3 separate regions of the Homo sapiens genome follow, and all the other regions are linked to region 3. The links come from fine-mapping of genetic effects on gene expression. A gene starts in region 3. Each other region holds a variant in brackets. All regions are shown on one strand. Distances are from middle to middle. Region 1 overlaps ARHGEF18 (Rho/Rac guanine nucleotide exchange factor 18). Region 2 overlaps ARHGEF18 (Rho/Rac guanine nucleotide exchange factor 18). Region 3 holds the start of ARHGEF18 (Rho/Rac guanine nucleotide exchange factor 18).

Region 1 (8,176 bases), 84 kb after region 3:
TTTTTCTGCTCCAGAATCCAGCTCAGGCTCCCACATTGCACTTGGTGGATTTAACTTTTGAGATACTTCCCTGTCATTTTTTATTTTTCTTTAAAAGAAATGAAGGCCGGCTCTGTCACCCAGGCTGGAGTGCAGTGGCATGATCATGGCTCACTGCAGCCTCAAGGTCCCAGGCTCAAGCGATCCTTCTGCCTCAGCCTCCCGAGTGCTCAGGACTACAGGCATACACTACCATGCCTGGCTAATTTTTTTTTTTTTTTTGACAGATGAAGTCTCACCATGTTGGCCAGGCTGGCCTCAAACTCTTGACCTTAAGTGATCCTCCCGCCTCAGCCCTGCAAAGTGCTGGAATTACAGGCATGAGCCACTGTACCCAAATACACAGCTCCCAAAATTAACACAGGCCAGGCATGGTGTTGCCTGTAATCGCAGCACTTTGGGAGGCTGAGGTGGGAGGACAGCTAAAGCCTGGAGTTCGAGATCAGCCTTGGTAACATAGGGAGACCCTATCTCTATAAAAATATCTAAAAAATTAGCTGGGCATGGTGGTATGCGCCTATAGTCCCAGCCACTTGGGAAGCTGAGGCCAGAGGACTGCTTGAGCCCAGGAATTCGTAACTGCGGTAAGCTAAGTCTGTGCCACTGTACTCCAGCCTGGGTGACAGAGCGAGACCCTCTCTTCAAATAAATAAGTAAATAAAATAGAACAATAATGCCCACATCCATAGACAATAAATAAATATACCAACCATCCTCAACCTAAATGTTATACTTCATAACAAAAATGAACTCCAGCACTTTGGGAGGCCAAGGCAAAAGCATCACTTGAGTCCAGGAGTTCGAGACCAGCCTTTGCAACATAGCCAGATCCCATCTCTAAATTAGCCAGGTGTGATAGCACACACCTATGGTCCCAGCTATTCGGGAGGCTGAGGTGGGAGGATCACTCGAGACAAGGAGGTTGAGGCTGCAGTGAGCCGTGATCGTGCCTGTGTACTATAGCCAGGGCGACAGAGTGAGACCCTGTTTCAAAACATAAAAAGATAAAATAACAGTAGTACCTACTTTTGAGTCATTGTGAGGACTGCAGGACTTAAGAAATATTAAGTGAGGCCGGGCACGGTGGCTCACCCCTGTAATCCTGGCACTTTGAGAGGCCGAGGTGGGCGGATCACTTGAGGTCAGGCATTCGAAACCAGCCTGGCCAACATGGTAAAACCCCGTCTCTACTAAAAATATAAAAATTAGCTGGGCATGGATGTGGGCGGCCATAATCCCAGCTACTCAGGAGGTTGAGGCAGGGGAATCGCTTGGGAGGCGGAGGTTGCAGTGAGTCAAGATCGTGCCACTGCACTCCAGCCTGGACGACAGAGTGAGACTCCATCTCAAAAAAAAAAAAAAAAAAAAAAAGGCCGGGCTCAGTGGCTCACGCCTTTAATCCCAGCACTTTGGGAGTCCAAGGCGGGTGGATCACCTGAGGTCGGGAGTTTGAGACCAGCCTGACCAACATGGCGAAACCCCGTCTCTACTAAAAATACAAAATTAGCGGGCGTGGCGGCGCATGCCTGTAATCCCAGCTACTCGGGAGGCTGAGGCAGAAGAATCGCTTGAACCCAGGAGGCGGAGGTTGCGGTGAGCCGAGATTGCGCCATTGTGCTCCAGCCTGGGCAACAAGAGCGAAACTCCAGCTCAAACAAAAGAAATACTAAGTCCTCAGGACACAGCCTGGAATGCAAGAAGCACTCAATAAATAGTACCTGTTGCTACGAATTACCACATTTTTTTAAATGGTATTTTGGGGGTTTGACGTGTAGTTTGGGGTAGGAGGCTTTTCGTTTTGTTTTTTGTTTTTGGATAGTACCAGGTTTGGGAAGAATATTCTGAGTCATACTTACCTTCTAAGCTGCAAGATGTCTTTTTTAATTTTTCTTTGTCCCCTGAGGTGCGGGATGAAGGGGTTTTTTTCTTCCTCCTACCTTTTTATTCTTTTTAATACTGTCTTGCTTGTGTAACATCAAAATGAGGCAAGAAAGAGAAATCAATGAAGTCATCTTCTCATCGATTTAGTCTATTCCCAGGTGGCCGAAAAGGCAGGAACTGTGAACTGAAAACTTCATCTGGCATCAGATTTTCTTTAATTGTCTCTCGAACACTCACCAGTAAGCCAGTGCTTGCTAGAACTCTCTAGAGCCAGGTTGCACTCTCAGCCTAAAAGAAAAGTCTTGGCTGAAACAAAGAACAGAAGGATGGGTGGGGACAGAAAACCTCCCTAAATGTGAGAAAAGGAGTCATTATTTCTGAGACCAGGCCTTGAAACCGAGGTGCTTGTCTGGTTCACTTGTTTCTTTCTTTTTGTTTTTGTTTTGTTCAGAGACAGGGTCTCACTACGTCGCCCAGGCTGGAATACAGTGGTGCCATCATAGCTCACTGCAGTCTCGACCTGCTGGGCTCAAGGGATCCTCCTGCCTCAGCCTCCCAAAGTACTCAGATTACAGACTTGAGCCACCACTCCCAGCCCTGTTTGTTTCTTGAATAGTCCTTTGCAGAAAACTGGAGACTTATGGACTAGGGCCCAGCTGCCTTCAAAAGATGTTTGGGGTCCCTTTACAAGTGAGAGGCTATATAGGAATCTGCAATTTAAGACAGGCAATTCTTGCTTACAAATTGGCATTTCTGGAAGTCAGTGTGCCTCTAGATTATTTATAAAGGACAGTTTGAAACCAATTAAGACAGTCACTTAATATGTCATATCAGGTCCGGGTACACTGGCCCATGCCTATAATCCCAGCACTTTGGGAAGTCGAAGCGGGAGGATCACTTAAGGCTAGGTATTCAAGACCAGCCTGGGCGACATAATGAGACCCCCGTTGCTACAGAAAAATTTTAAATTAGCTGGGCATGGTATCACACACCTGTAATCCTAGCTACTCAGGAGGCTGAGGCTGGAGGATCCCTTGAGCCCAGGAATTGGAGGCTTCAGTGAGCTGTGATCATGCCACTGTACTCTAGCCTAGATGATGGAGCGAGAATGTGTCTCTCTTTAAAAAAAAAAAAGAAGGCAGGCCGGGCACGGTGGCTCACACCTGTAATCCCAGCACTTTGGGAGGCCAAGGCGGGTGGATCACCTGAGGTCAGGAGTTTGAGACCAGCCTGGCCAACATAGTGAAACCCCGTCTCTACTAAAAATACAAAAATTAGCTGGGTGTGGTTGGACACACCTGTAGTCCCAGCTACTCGGGAGGCTGAGGCAGGAGAATCACTTGAACCCAGGAGGCGGGGTTGCAGTGAGCCAAGATTGCACCACTGCAGGGAGGCGGAGGTTGCAGTGAGCCAAGATCATGCCACTGCATTCCAGCCTGGGTGACAGAGCAAGACTCCGTCTCCAAAAAAAAAAAAAAAAAAAAAAAAAGTGTATCAGGTTTTCTTGGACATCACTTTGAACAGGCTAGTAACTACTCAGCCGTTTTCATGTAATTTTTGGTGAGTCCTGTTCCTGTAAGACCTAATAAGGAGTGTGCTTGGCTGTCAGAGGACAAAGCCTGTGGCTTACAGGATTTATGAGAGACTGAGTCACAAAGGAAGCACAGCGGCACTGGAAAAAGTCTGGGGTCTTAGGCTGGGTGCGGTGGCTCAGGCCTGTAATCCCAACACTTTGGAAGGCCGAGGCAGGCGAATCACTTGAGGCCAGGAGTTTGAGACCAGCTTGGCCAACGTGGAGAAACCCTATCTCTACTAAAAATACAAAAATAGCCAGGCATGGTGGCAGGCACCTGTAATTCCAGCTACTCG[A/G]GGGGCTGAGGCAGGAGAATCACTTGAACCTAGGAGGCGGAGGTTGCAGTGAACTGACATCACACCACTGCACTCCAACCTGGGCGACAGAGTGAGATCTGTCTCATTAAAAAAAAAAAAAAAAAGAAAAAAAAAGTATGGAGTCTTTTGTCCCAGTAAAGTAATGCAGGTGGGATCCTGACACCTGTTACGAAAGCTTTGTCATCTAACTTGCTCAGAGATTGCTCTTGTTTTAGTGTTTTTTAAAAAAACAAAAAATTTATAGAGACAGGGTCTATGTTGCCCAGGCTGGTCTCGAACACCTAGCCTCAAGCGATCCTCCCACCTCAGCCTCCCGAAGTGCTGGGATTACAGGCATGAGCCACTGTGCCTGGCCAGGGACTACTCTTGAATTCATGAAACCAAGACAAAACCAACTTTTAAAAATCACCCTGAGGATAGGCCACTGTCTGTGTTTGTTGCTGAGAATAGGGTATATTTTTTCCCCCTCAGGTCAGAACTGTTTTGATTTTCACCGTTCACCTCTTTCCATCCATCCTCCAGGTCCCCTTGCAGAAAGAGCTCTGCGGCATACAGTGGCCACAGCGGGCCAGGTGCTCACTAATCGATCGCACCTCTCAGCAGTGGGCAGGAGGCGCTAATTAGACTCTGAGTAGCTTTTGCAGCTGCACAGAAAGTGCTGGACAGCACAAGCTGAACCCCAAGCACCATGGCCGTCTGCTGTAGGAAAAACCGTAGCAGGAGATAAATATGTATCCCTGTCTCTCTCGGAGCCAAGAGCAGAGCGACTAATTCCCACCATATGTTGAGCTGCAAATCAGATGTTTTGCTCTCCTCCCACAGAAAGAAGCCTGTCCATCACAGGTGTGAGTTTGTTGGTTGAGCAGGTTTATTGAGACGTAATTCACAGACCATACAATGCACCCATTTAAGAGTACAACCCAGGGGCTTTTAGTATATTCAGAGTCACCGAAATGGATCTTAGAACCCCAAAAAGAAACACCATAGGCCAGGCGCAGTGGCTCACGCCTGTAATCCCAGCACTTTGGGAGGCCAAGGCGGGCGGATCACCTGCGGTCAAGAGTTTGAGACCAGCTTAGCCAATGTGGCAAAACCCCATCTCTACTAAAAATACAAAAATTAGCTGGGCGTGGTGGCAGGCACCTGTAATCCCAGCTACTCGGGAGGCTGAGGCAGAATGACTTGAACCTGGGAGGTGGAGGTTGCAGTGAGCCGAGATCACCCTCACTGTTTTCCAGCCTGAGTGACAGAGCGAGACTCCATCTCAAAAAAAAAAAGGCGTCAGAAGATCTGAGGCTCTCCCATCCCTGGCAAGCAGACTTCTGGCCTCTGGGCAGCTGGTGTTTTAGGGTACCCAGGATTTGTCTTAACCCAGTATGGTGAGACTCACAGACCCAGAAATGACCGTCAGGAAGGAAGAAGTTTATATTCACAGTCCTCTGGAAGCAGGAGGCAGGGCACACCACACAGGGGCCACATGGGGAAGCACCAGGGTCAGTTGAGGGACAGAGGGGAAAATATGGACAGGAGTCTTCATTGTGGTTTCCCGGGGAACAAATGGGCCAGGCAGGGTGAGCAGGTTCAGGATGGGGCCCCGAGGTGATGAGGGCAGCGGGACCGTGGCCAGGAGTGTGAGAGCCCCATAAAGGAGGCAACTGGGGGTCTGAGCTCTGCACTGGGTGCAGACCCTTTACTGTCTCTAGAAACTGGCCTGGGAGGGGCTGTGCATCCATGGTCAGCAAAGCCCCAAGATGTCAGAGCATCACAAATCCGGAATAAAAGGACATAATCAATACAGCGGGTCTGTGGCAGGGCCACTGACTCATGTCTTGACCCATCAGCTATTTCAGTGGCCGCATGTGTTCCAGGAAGACTCAATTTATGACTGTCCACCTCTTATTCTATTTCATTTCATTCTTTTTCAGAGTCTTGCTCTGTCACCCAGGCTGGAGTGCAGTGGGGCAGTCATAGCTCACCACAGCCCTGAACCCCAGGGCTCAAGCAATTTTCCCACCTCAGCCTCCCAGGTAGCTGGAACTACTGGCACACACCAACATGCCTGCCTAATTTTTTGTTGTTGTTTTTTAAGAGACGAGATCTCACTGTGTTGCCCAGACTGGTCTCTAACCTGCTGTCCCTGGTCATGACCCCAACATGTGAAAACTTCAGTGTCTTCTAAATCATCAAAGGAGGGTTTACATATATTCCCATAGATTTAGCATTACCAATAGTTTATTAAAATTCTTTGGAATCAGCATTTCTTCTTTTTTTTTTTTTTTTTTTGCCATCAACTTGATTTTGGGAATTGGCATTGCTTACATGCTGTTTTTTTTGTTTGGTTTTTTGGTTTTAGTTTTTTTCAAGACAGGATCTCACTCTGCTGCCCAGGCTGGAGTGCAGTGGCATGATCTCGGCTTACCACAACCTCTGCCTCCCAGGCTCCAGCAATTCTCCTGCCTCAGCCTTCTGAGTAGCTGTGATTACAGGTGTGCACCACCACTGCCAAGCTAATTTTTGTATTTTTAGTAGAGACAGGTTTTCCCCATGTTGGCCAGGCTGGTCTTGAACTCCTGACCTCAAATGATCCACCCCGCTCGGCCTCCCAAAGTGCTGGGATTACAGGTGTGAGCCACAACACCCAGCCAGATGCTATTTTTAGTGACTTTTTCTTCTATGGACTATTGTATTAGAGCAGAATTAATCTGATTTCAGTCAAGACCTCAGTCCACAAGCAACCATCTGTCAGCCCTGCCAGGATGCTGCTGGGCAAAGGATACATCTCGGGATTTGCGCCATATTTGTACGTTTAGGTCATAATTGCCTGGGTGGAGTTGAGTGTTGTACAGAAATGGCAAGAAATGCCTGTCCTGGACCGTGTCGCCTTTGGTTTAGGATTCCTGTTTTTTTACATAGGTGTTGCTTTGTGAGTGACATCTTCAATTGCTTTGTCTCCTATAACAATAGTAATTGTTAGTCATGTGTTATGACGTCAGAATGTTTCTGGCCTCTGAACAAATGTCATCTTTGCTGTGCTGGGCTGTGGAAAGAATGAACAGCTACTGAGTATATGTGCAATGTGCTGTTACACAGCTTAGTGGCTGATGTCTTAATTGGCAAGAATTCTTGACTCCTCTGCCAGAAAATCTCTAACACACACTCACCTGCTCGTTAACAATCACCTTCAATTTACAGCTAAATTAAAAGTTGCTCAGAGGCCGGCTACGGTGGCTCAAGCCTGTAATCCCAGCACTTAGGGAGGCCGAGGTGGGTGGATCACCTGAAGTTGGGAGTTCGAGACCAGCCTGACCAACATGGAGAAACTCCGTCTCTACTAAAAATACAAAATTAGCCGGGTGTGGTGGCACATGCCTGTAATCCCAGCTACTCGGGAGGCAGGAGAATCGCTTGAACCTGGGAGGCAGAGGTTGCGGTGAGCTGAGATCACGCCATTGCACTCCAGCCTGGGCAACAAAAGCGGAAATCCGTCTCAAAAAAAAAAAAAAAAAGTTGCTCAGAGAATGCTGAATCCTCTCCCAGGAGAGCTGCTGCGAGTACGTTTTCCCTAGGGTAAGCTCTGCCCACCCCATGGTTTATAACTCCGTGTTCCCAAGAAAGAGACTTCTAGCTGCTCTCTTCCTGTAACATAGACAAGGCAATGGTGTATCGGGACCTAGGAGCCAGGAGGCCACAGGACAGATCAGATTTCTTTTTTTTTTCTTTTTTTTTGTGAGATGGAGTCTCACTTTGTTGTTCAGGCTGGAGTGCGGTGGCATGATGTCAGCTCACGGCAACCTCTGCCTCCCGGGTTCAAGCGATTCTCCTGCCTCAGCCTCCCGAGTAGCTGGGATTACAGGTGCCCGCCACCATGCCCAGCTAATTTTGTATTTTTAGTAGAGATGGGGTTTCATCATGTTGGCCAGGCTGGTCTCAAAATCCTGACCTCAGGTGATCCACCCGCGTCGGCCTTCCAAAGTGCTGGGATTACAGGCATGAGCCACTGCACCTGATCTGACAAATCAGATTTCTATTTCTCTTCTCTAAGCTCCTCTCCTCTCCTCTCTCCTCCCCTCCCCTCCCCTCCCCTCCCTTCCCTTCCCCTCTCCTCTTCTCTCCTCTCTTCTCTCTTCTCTTCTCCCCTCCCCTCCCCTCCCTTCCCCTCTCCTCCCTTCTCCTCCCCTCTTCTTTTCGAGAAGGTCCCGCTCTGTCACCCAGGCTGGAGTGCAGTGGCACAATCATAGCTCACTGCAGCCTTGAACTCCTGGGCTCAAGCAATCCTACTGCCTCAGCCTCCCGAGTAGCTGAGACTACAGGCGTGCGCCACTTGTGCTCAGCTATTTTTTTATTTTGTGTAGAGACGGGGTCTTGC
Region 2 (8,176 bases), 110 kb after region 3:
CATCTTTAAGGATCTTGAGGGAGTCATTGAGGTGGCCAAATGACAGCACTTGCCCACTCATCATTTGAGTAGGCGTGTATTTCGCAGACAGGTTTAGCGCCTTCTGCCTGCCAGGCGCCGAGTTGGATGGTAGGAATACACCCCACCGGGCAAGACCTGGTGCCTAGCCTTTTAAGGCATCAGTCACTGGGCTGAAAGAGAGAAACAAGCCAAAAAACGGAAAAACTAGTTAGAAGTCCAGCACATGCTTTAAGGAAGCCAGCAGGCTGCAGTGTGAGAGAATTAGCAAAAGCGTATCTGACTTAGACAGGGGTGTTGGAAGCAGCTCCCCAAAAGTGGCGTTGCCCTTGAAACGCAGCTCAGGATTTGCATCTATGTGCAGGAAGCCTTACAGCACGAGAGGTTCATACAGGGACAAGGCGCCAAGGGGGACTGAGGGGCACGAGGGGACTGAGACCACCCCTGGCCTGCATCGCTGCTGTGGCTCGGGTCCTGGTGACCCAGGAGCAGGGAGAACAGAGAGCTCCGTTCACATCTGAGACATCAGAGGGAGAGATGTTGTATTAGTCCGTGTTCATGCTGCTGATAAAGACATACCTGAGACTGGGCAACTTACCAAAGAAAGAGGTTTAATGGACTTAAACAGTTCCACCTGTGGGGGAAGGCCTCACAATCATGGCAGAAGGCAGGAGGAGCAAGTCAAGTCTTACATGGATGGCAGCAGGCAAAGAGAGAGGGAGCTTGTGCAGGGAAACTCCCCCTTATAAAACTGTCAGATCTTGTGAGACTCATTCACTATCACGAGAACGGCATGGAAAAGATCTGCCCCCATGATTCAATTACCTCCCACCAGGTCCCTCTTACAGCACGTGGGAATTCAAGATGAGATGTGGGTGGGGACGCAGCCAAACCGTATCAGATTCTCAAAGGTCAGACCCAGCAGGTGTTGTTACAGCAAAGAGAATTGCCGGGCACAGTGGCCTGACATGGGCGGGAGCCCTGGTTTGAGCTCTGGACACGGAAGGGACTTAGAGGAGGCTCCGGCTGCTCGTTGGTGCTGAAGGTTGAGACCTGGAAAGGTGATGGGGGGTGCAGGCAAGGCAGAAAGGAAACTTCTAGGCCCAGGCAGAAGCATCATGCTGCTTACACCTTCCTGGGAAGTGGCATCCGCGGGGGTGGCCAGCAAGACCTCCTGGCTATGGGACTTTTAAGATGCATCCTTCCATGCTGTTTTCCCAGATATCCTGGCTATCCTGCTGACCGACGTACTTTTGCTGCTACAAGAAAAAGATCAGAAATACGTCTTTGCTTCTGTGGTATGTATCCTGTCTCTTCAGACGAAGGGTCGGCTGGGTGCTGTGGCTCACGTCTATAATCCCAGCACTTTGGGAGGCCGAGGTGGGCAGATCACTTGAGGTCAAGAGTTGAAGTCCAGCCTGGCCAACATGGTGAAACCTCACCTCTACTAAAAATACAAAAATTAGCCGGGCATGGTGGCCCATGTCTGTAGTCCCAGCTACTCAGGAGGCTGAGGCAGGATAATCACCTGAACCCAGGAGGTGAAGGTTGCAGTGAGCTGAGATTGTGCCACTGCTCTCCAGCAAGACTGCGCCACTGCTCTCCCGCCTGGGCAACAGAGCGAGACTCTATCTCAAAACAAAAAAACAAAACAAACAAACAAAAAACAGACGAAGGGCCCTGCTTGCTGTGACCTTGTTGGGAGGTTGGCTGAAACTGCCCATGGAAGGGGCACCTGTGAGTTTTCCAGGCCCACATAGCTGGGATTACAGGCGCCCGCCACCACGCCTGGCTAATTTTTTGTATTTTTAGTAGAGACGGGGTTTCACCATGTTGGCCAGGCTGGTCTCCATCTTCTAACCTCAAGTGATCCTCCCGCCTTGGCCTCCCAAAGTGATGGGATTACAGTCGTGCGCCACCGTGCCCAGCTGCTGGTGTGTTCTTAACCAGTGTATTTGTTTGCTGAGGCTGCTGTAAACAAAGTACCATGGACTGGGTGGTTTAGACCACATAAATTTATTGTCTCATGTTTCTGCAGGCTGAAAGTCCAAGATGAAGGTATCAGCAGGGTTGGTTTCTTCTGAGGCCCCTTGGCTTGTAGGCAGCCATGTGCTCATCTGTTCTCTGTGTCCTCGAGTGGCCATCCCTCTGTGTGTGCCTCTGTGCTAATCTCCTCTTGTTAGAAGGATGCCAGTCAGATTGGATTTGGGCCCGCCCATATGATCTCATTTTGCCATAATCACCTCTCTTTTTTTTTTTTTTTTTTTTTTTTTTTGAGACAGTCTCACTCTGTCGCCCAGGCTGGAGTGTGCAATGACACAATCTCGACTCACTGCAACCTCCACCTCCCGAGTTCAAGTGATTCTCCTGCCTCAGCCTCCTGAGTAGCTGGGATTACAGGCACCTGCCGCCACACCCGGCTACTTTTTGTATTTTTAGTAGAGATGGGGTTTCACCATGTTGGCCAGGCTGGTCTTGAACTCCTGACCTTAAGTGATCTGCCTGCCTCAGCCTCCCAAAGTGCTGGGATTACAGGAGTGAGCCACCACACCCGCACATTAATCACCTCTTTAAAGGCCCCATCTCCAAAGACAGCCACATTCTGAGGTGCTAGGGCTCAGGACTTCATATGAATTTGTGGGGAACACAGTGTAGCCCACTCTAGCCAGTTAAAATGTGCATTTTGCTGGTCTGTGGAAGCATTGTCTCTTGAAGGATGCGTGACAGACTAGAAATACCGGTGGCTCTGGGTGGCCTGAGGCACAAGACAGAGATGGGTTTATCTGTTGTTATATACTACATACCGTTGTATCTTTTGAGCTTTCTCGTGTGTATGTGCATTGCCGACTATTTAAAAAAAAATTTTTAAGCTGATGAAATTGACACATTATCGGGATACTAAGGGGCAAGATGGCTCACTCCTGTCATCTCAGCACTTTGGGAGGCCGAGATAGGAGGATCACTTGAGCCTAGGACTTCAAGACCAGCCTGGGCAACATAGTGAGATCCCATCTCTACAAAAAATACAAAAATTAGCTGGGCCTGGCGGCACGTGCCTATAATCCCAGCTACTCAGGAGGCTGAGGTGGGAGGATCACTTGAGCCCAGGAGGTCAAGGCTGCAGGGAACAATGATTGCACCACTGCACTACAGCCTGGGTGACAGAGCAAGACCTGGCCTCCAAGATAGTTTAAAAAAAAAAAAAAAAAAAAAAAGGTTTCTAGGATTTCACTGCAATAGTATCTTTTTTCCCCCAGATGGCAAAATATTTCCGCTTTGAATTGTTTGAAAAGAAATGAGGAGCGTGACCCCCACTCTTAGTTCCCCTCACCAGGCCCTTGACCTCCCTGCTGTTTGGGTGCTGTGGGGTAAAGGGTGACCTCCCCAATGCCCTCTACTCATGCAGGACTCAAAGCCACCCGTCATCTCGTTACAAAAGCTCATCGTGAGGGAAGTGGCCAACGAGGAGAAAGCGATGTTTCTGATCAGCGCCTCCTTGCAAGGGCCGGAGATGTATGAAATCTACACGAGCTCCAAAGAGGACAGGAACGCCTGGATGGCCCACATCCAAAGGGCTGTGGAGAGGTGAGGAGGGCCTGGGGGTCTCCCCACCCACTGTGTTCCTTCCGCTGATTGGTCCACCCTTGGCTTCGACCGTTGGCCATCAGCTGTGACCTTGAACTCCCTCATCCCAGCTTGGGACCCATGACGCCATTCCAGCTCCTTCTGATGACTCAACCTGTTGGACGTTGAGGCCAACGGGCCCAGAAAGGCAGCTGTAACCTGGGCCTTTCTGCATGCGTGGGCCACTGCACCTGCCATGGCGGGCTCTCTGCATTCTAGGGCCAGATTTGTTGGAGCAGGGCATGGCATCTTGTCCTTCCTCCTTGGGCCGAGCACCCCTCAGGGCCCAGAACCAGCTGGCTTCCCCTCCCTCTCTTTATTTTTTATTTTTTTGAGACAGAGTCTTGCTCTGTCACCCAGGCTGGAGTGCAGTGATGCAATCTCGGCTCACTGCAGCCTCCGCCTCCCAGGTTCAAACGATTCTGCTGCCTCAGCCTCCCCGAGTAGCTGGGATTACAGGCGTGAGCCACTGCGCCCAGCCTATTTTGTTTTGTTTTGTTTTGTTTTTTAGAGTCTGGCTCTTGCTCTATCACCCAGGCTGGAGTGCGCTGGCACAATCATAGCTTATTGCAACCCAAACTCCTGGGCTCAAGCCATCCTACCCCCTCGGCCTCCCAAGTAGCTTGAACTACAGGCATACACCACCACACCCAGCTAGATTTTTTATTTTTGTAGAGATGGGGCCTCACTGTGTTGCCCAGGCTGGTCTTGAACTCCTGGCCTCAAGCCATCCTCCTGTCTTGGCCTCCCAAAGTGTTGGGATTACAGGCGTGAGCCACCATGCCTGTCCACTCCCTCTCTTGATTCCCGGAGGCTTCCTGGTGCCTTAATCTGGTTCAGACTCCCCCATCCACAGTAGCTGTAGCTCTACGGGGCTTGCAGCCACCCACCTGCACCTGGCAGGTCCTCTGCAAGCCCGCTGTCCCCTGGACTCCTCCTCTAAGTCACAGGCAGGCATGTAAAGCCTCTTCCTGGTTATGCCCTGGCGCTTTGGGGCGGGATGAATGTCAGTGGCTCTCTCTCTTCCCCTCCTCGTCCTCCTGCACCACGAACAAGCTAAATCACTCCCAAAGTCAGAGACGGTCGTGGCGGCTGGTTCTGCAGAACCAGCGTCTGTGCCGAGGCTG[G/C]CCTGCCTGGGAAGCACAGTTACCCACCCGACTCCTCTCCCTGCAGCTGCCCTGACGAGGAGGAGGGGCCCTTCAGCCTGCCCGAAGAGGAAAGGAAGGTGGTCGAGGCCCGCGCCACGAGACTCCGGGACTTTCAAGGTGAGCGGGAGACAGCGTCTGGGCACACCCCTTGTGTGGTGAGCCCTGGGCCCTCCATCAGGACTGGCCACAGAGGGTGAACTGCCCCCCAGGTGACCCGGTGTTTTCCCGTGGGCTGTGCCATGTCCTGCAGCTCTGTGAAGCATTAGAACGGGCTGTGCCATGACATAGCGATCTCCAGAGGTCACTTAGCCCTTTGGGGGTATGTGGGAGAGGGAGGGAGGAGAGCCCAGAGGACCTGAGCCCCTTCCAGAGCCGACCACACAGCCACACACGCCACCACCACCCCATCCTCGTGCAGCCAGGAGCTCAACAGGGCATCCCAGTCCCATACGAAGGAATAGCACAGGGTCCCCACAGCCTCCTTCCAGAGCTTCCTCCTCCCTGTTTAATTACACGATTGAGATGTAATTCACACACCACAGCACTCACCCTCCCAAGCGTGGGGTTCAGGGGCATTTCAGTGCATTTCCAATTATGCAGCCAGAATCATGTTAACTTTAGAACATCCCACCACCCCAGAAAGAAGCCCCGTCCCCCTTAACAGTCACTCCCCACCCCATGCCCCAACCCTGGCAACAGGAATCTACTTCCTGTCCCTGTAGATTGGCCTGCCCTGGACATTCCACATAAATGGAGTCACACCGCGCGGCCTTTTGGGTCTGGCTCCTCTCGAGGTGTGGTATTAAGGTTCGCCCGCGCTCAGTGAGCACTTTGTCAAGAACAATTCCTGGTGCCCTGTAGCCTGCGGCAAGCTCCCTTCTTCCCTTTCACTGTCTGTATTTTTTTTTATTTTATCTTCTTTTTTTTTTTTAAACAGAGCCTCGCTCTGTCACCAGGCTGGAATGCAGTGGCGTGATCTCGGCTTACTGCAAGCTCTGCCTATCAGGTCCAAGAGATTCTCCTCCCTCAGCCTCCCGAGTAGCTGGGACTATAGGCACCCGCCACCACGCCCCACTAATTTTTGTGTTTTTAGTAGAGATGGGGTTTCACCATGTTGGCCAGGATGGTCTCAATCTCTCGACCTCGTGATCTGCCTGCCTCGGCCTCCCAAAGTGCTGGGATTACAGGCGTGAGCCACCGCTCCCGGCCCTGTATTATTCATTTCTAAATTGGATAATACTCAAACAATAAGTGGCCTGGTATGGTGGCTCATGCCTGTAATCCCTGCACTTTGGGAGGCTGAGGCAGATGGATCACTGGAAGCCAGGAGTTTGAGACCAGCCTGGACAACATGGCAAAACCCTGTCTCTACAAAAAATTTAAAAATTAGGCTGGGTGCGGTGGCTCACGCCTGTAATCCCAGCACTTTGGGAGGCCAAAGCAGGTGGATCATTTGAGATCAGGAGTTTGAGACCAGCCTGGCCAAGATGGCAAAACCCCGTTTCTACTAAAAATACAAAAAATTAGCCAGGCATGGTGGTGCGTGCCTATAGTCCCAGCTACTCGGGAGGCTGAGGCAGGAGAATCGCTTGAACCCGGGAGGTGGAGGTTGCAGTGAGCCGAGATTGTGCCACTGCACTCCAGCCTGGGCGACAGAGCGAGACTCCTTCTCAAAAGAAGAAGGAAGGAAAGAAAGAAAGGGAGGATGGAAAATTCAGTTTTCTAAGGCTCTAAGTTGGTCCCAGACTAATAAATGGGCCTGATACAATCCTCACTCACACCCTACTGTGTTTGATTTTATTTTATTTCTTTTAGAGACAGGATCTTGCTTTGTTGGCCAGGCTGGAGTACAGTACTGCAGTCATAGCTCACTGCAGCCTTGAACTCCTGGGCTCAAGCGATCCTCCTGCCTCATTTCCCAGGCATGCACCACCACAACCAGCTAATTTTTTATTTGTAGAGACAGAGTCTCATTATGTTGTCCAGGCTGGTCTCGAACTCCAGGCCGCAAGAGTCCTCCTACCTTGGCTTCCCTAAGTACTGGGATCGCAGGCCTGAGCCACCACAGCTAACCTGATTTTTATAACAAGGGGGAAAATAATCAGAGGACAAGGCCATGCCCTCCCCTACCTCCCAGGAATGCAGGACACAAGGGGGCAGCCTACCTCAGGGCAGGGCCAGCGGGGTTCCTCATCCTTAGGCCAGTCCCCGGGGCTCAGATGATTCCAGGGAAGGCCGACCCGGCTGACTGCCACCTCCACCATCACTCTGCAGAGCGGTTGAGCATGAAAGACCAGCTGATCGCACAGAGCCTCCTAGAGAAACAGCAGATCTACCTGGAGATGGCCGAGATGGGCGGCCTCGAAGACCTGCCCCAGCCCCGAGGCCTATTCCGTGGAGGGGACCCATCCGAGACCCTGCAGGGGGAGCTAATTCTCAAGTCGGCCATGAGCGAGAGTAAGTTGGCTGCCCACACCTCAAGGGTGCAGTCTTGCCGGGGTGGGCTCCTCAGGGAACCCCAGGCCAGGCTCACGGCTCATTGTGGCCGACACGGCACCCTGTCCAGGACAGGCTTCTATGTGGGGGGGGCCCAGGAGCAGCACTGACCGCCCCCCGGTGCCTGTGAGAGCCAGAAGGGCCTTAGACATAATCTGGGCCAAGCCGCTCCTTGCAGACATAAAGCACTTTCTCCCCGTTCAACAACCGCTCTGATGCTCCCTGCATGCAGAGGCTCTAAGCCGGGCCGTGGGGAGGATCTGAAGTTGACTAAGACTGGTTCCCTACCTACCAGAGGTTCCTCTTCTTCCTGGGAGGTGGGTCCTGGTGATATCCCCAGAAAAACACACGCACACTCCCTCAGTGGGTCCCCACGCACAGCTCTAACACAGCCGCCAGGCCCCTGGGCTGGCCGCTTGAGCAGGCAGTCAGCGCCCAGTCTGCTCTTTCTTTTTTTCTTTTCTTTTTTTTTTTTTTTTTTGAGATGGAGTCTCGCTTTGTCACCCAGGCTGGAGTGCAGTGGCGTGATCTCGGCTCACTGCAACCTCCACCTCCTGGGTTTAAGTAATTCTGCCTCAGCCTCCTGGGTAGCTGGGATTACAGGCACCCACCACCACGCCCAGCTAATTTTTGTATTTTTCGTAGAGATGGGGTTTCACCATGTTGGCCAGGCTGGTCTCGAACTCCTGACCTCAGATGATCCACCCTCCTCTGCCTCCCAAGGTGCTGGGATTATAGGCGTGAGCCACCGCGCCCTGCCTCAATCTGCTCTTTCAACAGTGAGGGAAGCCGACTCAGCCCCTGCCTTCCAGAGCCTTTCCGCAGAATAAGACGGCAGAGACGGGGGTCAGTCTTTCTCCCTCCAGGCCCACTGACATCCTTCCACCCGG
Region 3 (8,176 bases):
TCTATCGCATCACTCTGTTTACTTCCTGTTGCGGCAATTCACAGCACCTGAATTTATCTCCTAGGTGTGTTTCCTGATTCACTGTTTGCCTCCCCCAGCTGGAGCTCCTGCAGGGCGGGGGTTTGTGTCTGTCTTGTTCACCGTGATCCCACACCTGCCACAGTGCCTGGCATACAGTAGGTGCTCGATAAATGCATGTTGCCTGAAAGAAATAATCAACTGGTTACAGAATGGGTGTGTGCAAATCTGTGTATATCTGTGTCTCCTTGTGTTCTGTGTGTGTCTCGTTGGTGTGATTCTGGGGATGGCCCCACCTGTGTCCCCAGGGACAAGCGCGGCGCTATGGGCCAGTGAGTGTTTGTGGTGAGGGCTTTCCGGGTCTGTGTGTTAGTGATTTTGAGTGGTCCCGTGGCAACCGGTGTGCAAGTCAGTGTCTCCAGAGGTGTTCTCAGAGGTGGCCAGCATCTGCTCTTTTTTGTTGTTGTTGTTTTGTTTTTGTTTGTTGTTTAAGATGGAATCTCACTCTGTTGCCCAGGCTGGAGTGCAGTGGCATGATCTTGGCTCACGGCAACCTCCGCCTCCCGGGTTCAAGCCATTCTCCTGCCTCAGCCTCCCGAGTAGCTGGGATTACAGGCACATGCCACCACACCCGGCTAATGTTTATATTTTTAGTAGAAATGGGTTTTCACCACGTTGGCCAGGCTGGACTCAAACTCCCGACCTCAGGTGATCCACCTGCCTCGGCCTCCCAAAGTGCTGAGATTATAGGCATGAGCCACCGCGCCTGGCCAGCAGCATCTGCTCGTGTGTGTGTGTGTGTGTGTGTGTGTGTGTGAGTGTTCTGTGTGACTGTGGCTGTGAGTCCACATGTGTGTCGGGGTGTTTGTTGTGTATGTGTGTCTGCATGCCCATTCTGCATGTCCACATGACACTGCATGCTCCTGTGTGAAGTTGTGCCCATGAGCACACGTGTCTGTGTTTGCGTATCCTTGTGTGTCCTCTGGGTGTGTCCTTGAGCTTTGTGTTCCAGGAGCCTGCAGCCCTGTTGTGCAGCGCTGTTGTGCTCTGTTGTGCACGTGCATGTGTCTCGTGTCCTCTGTGTGTGGGGTGGCTCCTACATGTAGTTGTGCACACTTGTATCTGCCTCTGTGAGTCCCTGTGCCTATGTGTGACCATGTGTGAAGTGTGATTGTGCAGTATCCCAAAACCATCTGTGTGCACCGCTGTGCAGTAGTGTGCTGGTAAATGTTGAACCTCTCCAGTGGAGAGCACTGATTTATAGCATTGCCAGTCCTCATGGTGTAAATACTCTCGCCACAGCCAATTTCAAGTGATGCCACCGAACAGTGAGTCAGAAAGATATGGACAGCAGCAAACCATTATACAGTATTTCTACCAAACAGGTTCCATACACAAAAGCAACATCAAAAGCATAGATTATGAGGCCAGGTGTGGTGGCTCACACCTGTAACCCCAGCACTTCCGGAGGCTGAGGTGGGCGAATCCTCTGAGGTCCGGAGTTCGAGACCAGCCTGGCCAACATAGTGAAATCCCGTCTCTACTAAAAATACAAAAATTAGCCTGGTGTGGTGGGGGTCACCTATAATCCCAGCTACCTGGGAGGCTGAGGCAGGAGAATCACTTGAACCCAGGAGGCAGAGGTTGCAGTGAGCTGAGATTGCACCACTGCACTCCAGCCCGGGCAACAGAGCAAGACTCCATCTCAAAAAAAAAAAAAAAAAAAAAAAAAAAAAAAAAAGGAAAAGGAAAAAAAGCATAGATTATGGAAAATGCAGCAAAAATAATGTTAAAGTGATTAATTTAAATGTGGTAAAATAGGCATAACGTAAAATTTACCATTTTAACTTTCTTTAAAAAAAATGGGATTTCACTCTGTCACCCAGGCTGGAGTACGGTGGCACAATTATAGGTCACTGCAGCTTTGAACACCTGGGCTCAAGTGAGCCTCCCCGCCTCAGCCTCCGGAGCGGCTGGGACTGCAGGCAGGCACCACCAAATGTGGCGAAGTTTTAAATTTTTTGTAGAGTACTCACTCCAGTGACAGGCTGAAGCCAGCCCAAGAGCCAAGTTTAGTGGAGCATCATGGCTCATGCCTGTAATCCCAGCACTTTGGGAGGCCAAGGCGGGTGGACTGCTTGAGCCCAGGAGTTTGAGACCAGCCTGGGAAACATAATAAAATCCCTGTCTCTACAAAAAAAAAAAATTAACTTAGGCTGGGCGCCATGTCTCGTGCCTCTAATCCCAGCACTTTGGGAGGCCAAGGTGGGAGGATTGCTTGAGCCCAGGAGTTCGAGACCAGCCTGGGCAATATGGTGAGACCCTGTCTGTACTAAAAATACAAACCAAAAAAAAATAGCCAGGCGTGGTGATGTGTGCCTGTGGTCCCAGCTACTCAGGAGGCGGAGGTGGGAGGATCACTTGAGCCCAGGGGATGGAGGTTGCAATGAACCAAAATCACCCCCACTGCACTCCAGCCTGGATGACAGAGTGAGAGCCTGTCTCAAAAGAAAAATTATATATAAAAAATTATATATAAATTATATATAAGTCTATATATAATCCATATATAATTATATATAAAGTATATATAAATTATACATAAATTATCTGTAAACAAAAAACTTAGCCAGGCATGGTGGCATGTGCCTGTAATCCCAACTACTCAGGAGGCTGAAGCAGAAGGATCACTTGAGCCCAAGAGATTGAGGCTGCAGTGAGCTATGATTTTTCCACTGCACTCCAGACTGGATGACAGAATGAGACCCTATCTCTAAAAATAAAATAAACAGTTTTTTGTTGTTGTTGTTGTTGTTTTCTAAAAAAAGCCAAATCTGAGCATTTCCTATCAACTCCACACTCGGTGACATCACACTGGTAGGTGAAATCGGCCATGCTGGGGGTATTTACACCAGGAGAATTGGCAATGGCTACAAATCGGAGAGGTGGTTGTTAAACGTTACCAGCACACCATGTTGTTCCGCCAGCTTCCAGGTACCCATGTAACAATGTAGCCACGTGTGTTTCTGTCTCTCTGTGTGTACCCACCATGCTGGTGTGTGTCTGGGTGCCTGAGTCTCTACGGATACACATGACCTGCACGTCCCTATATGTTGCTGTCTATACACCCATGTGCCTGGGTGAGGCCCCCACACCCTGTTCCTCTTCAGCAGTTGGTTCCACAGGAAGCTGCTGGGGTGGGGGTTGAGGACGCTGGGCCTCCCTCCAGCTCCCCACCCCTCCTCCTCAAGACACCTGCATGCGCAGGGCTGAGGGGTGGGAGCAGGGCTCTCTGCCTCCAGAACCCCCATCCTCTGGGCTCTTTTTAGGCCCCTAGATTGGCCTGCAGCTGGGAGCAGAGTGGCAAGCATGCAGGCAGGCAGTTGAGAAAGAGGAAGTCGAGGTGCTATTGGGTCATTCTGTGGTTATCCCAGGCTCTACCCAGCCAGCGGTTCCCTTGGGCCAGCTCGAAACGCTGGCCGTAGGTCATGGGAGCTGCAGGAGCTGTTAGCCAGGCTAGGTGCCTGCAGGTTGAAGAACTGAGCTCTATCTGGTAAGTACTTATCCTGGGAAGTGGAGAGAGATGGACCCATCGGGACAGAGTGGCAGTGGGGTCTGGGAAGTCTAGGGGGACAGCGAGCAGACATACATCACTGTTTCTCTCCCCCTTGCAGTCAACTTGCTTCCTGAGTGGGTGGGGGAAGCTGTTTGACCCTTGCGTTCATTGTGCAGAGATCTGTGGTCATAAGAGGTCACCCCAGGGGACGGGGATCCTTGAGGGGCTGCTAGGTAAGAAAGGAGGGTGGAGGCCGGGCGCGGTGGCTCACACCTGTAATCCTAGCACTTTGGGAGGCTGAGGAGGGCGGATCACTTGAGGTCAAGAGTTGGAGACCAGCCCGGCCAACATGGTGAAACCCCGTCTCTACTAAAAATACAAAAATTAGCCAGGCGTGGTGGCGGGCAGCTGTAATCTCAGCTACTCGGGAGGCTGAGGCAGGAGAATGGCTTGAACCCGGGAGGTAGAGGTTGAAGTGAGCCTCTCAGTCTCAAAACAAAGAAAAGAAAAAGAAAAGCAAAGAAAGGACGATAGAGCTCCTTGTAGCCAAGGCCCTCCTGCGTGGAGACAGGAGACAGAGAATGAATGGGGGAGCTGGGGCAAAGGCTCAGGTGCCCTTTGCATCTTAAACTGCAGATTCCGGGCCCCCCAAGAACCTCCCTGTTGCAGATTCTGAATCCACTGTCAAAACAAACTCACACTTAAGGCTGATGGCTGACAACCAGCCCTGAGAAGGGTCTTGTCCTGATCTGAAATCATCCAGAGAGCACATCCCTCCACCCAGGCAGCCTTCCTCCAGGTGAGGGTTCTCCCCCTTGGGAGACATCCCCTGTCTCCTCTCGTGGCCCCTTCTTAGGGGGACCTCCTGCACCACCGCCTGCCTGGGACTGGGAGGGGTGGGGGAGGAAGGCTGCGGTTTCTGCTGGGCACACCCAGTCTGTTGTTTCCTGCCAGCCCCCAATGCTGCAGGGCAGGCTTCAGGCACCCTGAGGTCTAGGAAGGTGGCCCCAGAACCAGGAGGGAGTGAATTGAGCTAGAGTGGACAGCTGGGGCCAGAGAGGATGGAGCTAGGAAGTGACGCTGGGGGCTGATGCTCCAAGGCCAGGTCACCTGCAGTTCTGAGAAAAGAACATGACAACCAAAGGAGGTCAGGAAAGGGTTGCCCTCATAATCAGCCACATTTCAACTCCCTTGCTGTGACTGGGAGTCACTCTGGGAGGGCTGCTTGGTAGAGGCAGCCTTTTCATTATGCCTTGAAGAACCAGTAGATGGCAACTGCAAACACGTCGGTGCTTCTGGTCTGGGCTGTCTCCCATGCCTCCCTGGGCATCCCCTAGCCCATGACAAAGGGATGGGCATATGTTGATGCTCGATACTGTTGTAGATGACATGGTGACTGTGTTGGACAGCTGGGCGTTCAAATCCCAGTTCCCTGGCCTCTATGTGGCCTTGGGCAAATGACTTAACTGCTCTGAGCTTTCGTTTGCTCATCTGTTAAAAGGCTGTTGAGTTTTTTGGGGTGGGTGTGTGTGTGTGTGTGTGTGTGTGTGTGTGTGTGTGTGTGTGTGTGTGTGTTGGAGATAGAATCTTGCTCTATCGCCCAGGCTGGAGTACATTGGTGCAATCTCAGCTCACTGCAACCTCCGCCTCTCGGGTTTAAGCAATTCTCCTGCCTCAGCCTCCCAAGTAGCTGGGATTACAGGCACACGCCTCCATGCCCAGCTAATTTTTGTATTTTTAGTAGAGACAGGGTTTCACCATATTGGTTAGGCTGGTCTTGAACTCCTGACCTCAGGTGATCTGCCTGCCTTGGCCTCCCAAAGTGCTGGGATTACAGGCATGAACCACCTCGCTCAGCCTTTATGAAGTTTGGTCTGTGAGATCTTAGTGCAGTGTCTGGCACGTAATAGATCAGAAAACATTGTCAGCCTCACCTATGCCTTCATACTGACCTTGTCCCCAGGCCTTCCTTCCTGAGCAGTCCCACCATCTTCTGAAATGTTCTGGGTCATACCCATGGTGGATCTCAATCTGTAAGCAAGTCTGCTAGAGTGGACTTCTTTTGTTTGTTTGTTTGTTTGTTTGTTTGTTTGTTTTGAGATGGAGTCTTGTTCTATTGCCCAGGCTGGAGTGCAGTGGCACGATCTCGGCTCACTGCAAGCTCCACCTCCCGGGTTCACGCCATTCTCCTGCCTCAGCCTCCCAAGTAGCTGGGACTACAGGCGCCCGCCACCATGCCCGGCTAATTTTATGTATTTTTAATAGAGACGGGGTTTCACCGTGTTAGCCAGGATGGTCTTGATCTCCTGACCTTGTGATCCCCCCACCTCAGCCTCCCAAAGTGCTGGGATTACAGGCATGACCCACTGTGCCCAGCTAGAGTGGACTTCTTAAGGATCCCATCCAGCCATCCCTGTATCATATGCTACTGTATTTTCTCTCTGCCTCTCTCTCTCTCTCTTTTTTTTTTTTTTTTCTGAGACAGAGTTGCCCAGGCTGGAGTGCAGTGGCACAGTCTCAGCTCACTGCAACCTCCACCTCCTGGGTTCAAGCAGTTCTCCTGCCTCAGCCTCCTGAGTAGCTGGGATTATAAATGCATACCACCACACCTGGCTAATTTTAGTAGTTTTAGTAGAGACAGGGTTTCACCATGTTACCCAGGCTGGTCTTGAATTCCTGACCTCAGGTGATCCACCTGCCTTGGCCTCCCAAAGTGCTGGGATTACAGATGTAAGCCACTGCACCTGGCCTGTTGTATTTTTAATTCTAGCATCTTTATCTCCTGTAGGGCTGTTGCTATTGTCTGTGTTTCTTCTTGTTTTTTGGTCATGAGGTTCTGTCTTCTAGTATGCCTGGTAGTCTGATTAAATGCCAGGCCTTGTTTGTGAAAAACTATAGGGATAATTTGTGTCTCTTTATGGTGTCATTTTCCTCCATAGAGCGTTTATTTTTGCTTTGGGCAGGCAGTTAGAGAAAGGAAAGATCACTTTAATCTGATTGTGACCTATGCTGACTTGAAGATGGATTTTGCTCTCGGTGAGGGCTAGTCTATGTCTGGTCCCTCCTTGCTCCTAGGGTGTAGTCTTTTAGGGGTGGCAATCACCTCCTCTTTTTGGGCCCTGAATTCCAATGTTTATTTCCCCAACATAAGATTGCTAAGAGCTACATTCAGGTTCTCAGGCTTTTTCTGGTCTGCCTCCCACTCACTCAAGAACTGTGTTCAAATCAACAACTTGTTTGTGAGGGAAAAGCATTACATTATGTCCTTCTCACTTTCCTAGGTTTCCTTTTTTTTTTTTTTTTTTTTGAGATGGAATCTCACTCTGTCACCCAGGCTGTCGTGCAGTGGCATGATCTGGGCTCACTGCAAGCTCCACCTCCCAGGTTCACGCCATTCTCCTGCCTCAGCCTCCCGAGTAGCTGGGAATACAGGTGCCTGCCACCACGCCCGGCTATTTTTTTGTATTTTCAGTAGAGACGGGGTTTCACAGTGTTAGCCAGGATGGTCTCGATCTCCTGACCTCATGATCCGCCCACCTCGGCCTCCCAAAGTGCTGGAATTACAGGTGTGAGTCGCCGTGCCTGGCCTTTTTTTTTTTTTTTTTTTTTTGACATAGACTCTTGCTCTGTCATCCAAGCTGGAGTGCAGTGGCATGATCTTGGCTCATCACAACCTCTGCCTCCCAGGTTCAAGCGATTCTCCTGCCTCAGCCTCCTGAATAGCTGGGATTACAGGCATCCACCACCATGCCTGGCTAATTTTGTATTTTTAGTACAGACGGGGTTTCACCATGTTGGCCAGGCTGGTCTCGAACTCCTGACCTCCAGTGAGTTGCCCACCTCGGCTTCCCAAAGTGCTGGGATTACAGGTGTGAGCCACCGCGCCTGGCCCCTAGGTTTCCTTTCTTTCCAGGGCCGTGATTCTTCCAACTCTGACTGCCAATGCCTTCCAAGCAAGGGTGGTTTTTCACTCTTCCAATTTTGTCCAGCTTTTCTATTTGTTCTTGGTGGGAGAATAAATCTGCAATAAGCTAGCCTGCCATCATTAGAAATACATATTCCAGCTGGGTGCAGTGGCTCACGCCTGTAATCTCAGCACTTTGGGAGGCTGAGGTGGTTGGATCACCTGAGGTCAGGAGTTCGAGACCAGCCTGGCCAATATGGCAAAGCCCTATCTCTACTAAGAATACAAAAAATTAGCCAGGCATGGTAGCGGGCGCCTGTAATCCCAGCTACTTGAGAGGCTGAGGCAGGAGAATCACTTGAACCCGGGAGGCAGAGGTTGCAGTGAGCCGAGATTGCGCCATTGCATTCCAGCCTCAGCAACAAAAGTGAAACTCCATCTCAAAAAAAAAAAAGAAAAAGAAAAGAAAAGAAAAAGAAAAAGAAATAGATATCCCTGTTGTATTTTTTTAAAGTGAGATTTAGCCAGGTGTGGTGGCTCACACCTGTAATCCCAGTACTTTCGGAGGCCGAGGTGGGAGGATCACCTGAGGTTAGGAGTTCAAGACCAGTCTGGCCAACATGGCAAAACCCTGCCTCTACTACAAATACAAAAATTAGCTGGGCATGGTGGTGCACGCCTGTGATCCCAGCTACTAG

What was found. PIP is the estimated chance that this variant, and not a neighbour inherited with it, causes the effect.
Region 1: its variant is fine-mapped to the expression of ARHGEF18 in skeletal muscle (GTEx, PIP 0.97).
Region 2: its variant is fine-mapped to the expression of ARHGEF18 in whole blood (TOPMed, PIP above 0.99).

The regions. Positions count from the first base shown.
Region 1 is chr19:7,430,124-7,438,299 of GRCh38, forward strand. The region is part of intron 10 of ARHGEF18 (Rho/Rac guanine nucleotide exchange factor 18); the gene reads left to right. Among named protein-coding and RNA genes, the nearest start is that of ARHGEF18-AS1, 39 kb to the left of the region's middle. RefSeq lists a silencer at 6,114-6,301. The variant A/G (reference allele first, on the strand shown) is at 3,790.
Region 2 is chr19:7,455,088-7,463,263 of GRCh38, forward strand. ARHGEF18 (Rho/Rac guanine nucleotide exchange factor 18) reads left to right here. Exons shown (of 29, transcript NM_001367823.1): 18 at 1,240-1,316; 19 at 3,425-3,603; 20 at 4,816-4,907; 21 at 7,065-7,247. Among named protein-coding and RNA genes, the nearest start is that of PEX11G, 30 kb to the right of the region's middle. The variant G/C (reference allele first, on the strand shown) is at 4,770.
Region 3 is chr19:7,345,671-7,353,846 of GRCh38, forward strand. It overlaps ARHGEF18 (Rho/Rac guanine nucleotide exchange factor 18), which reads left to right and starts at 3,267. Exons shown (of 29, transcript NM_001367823.1): 1 at 3,267-3,571.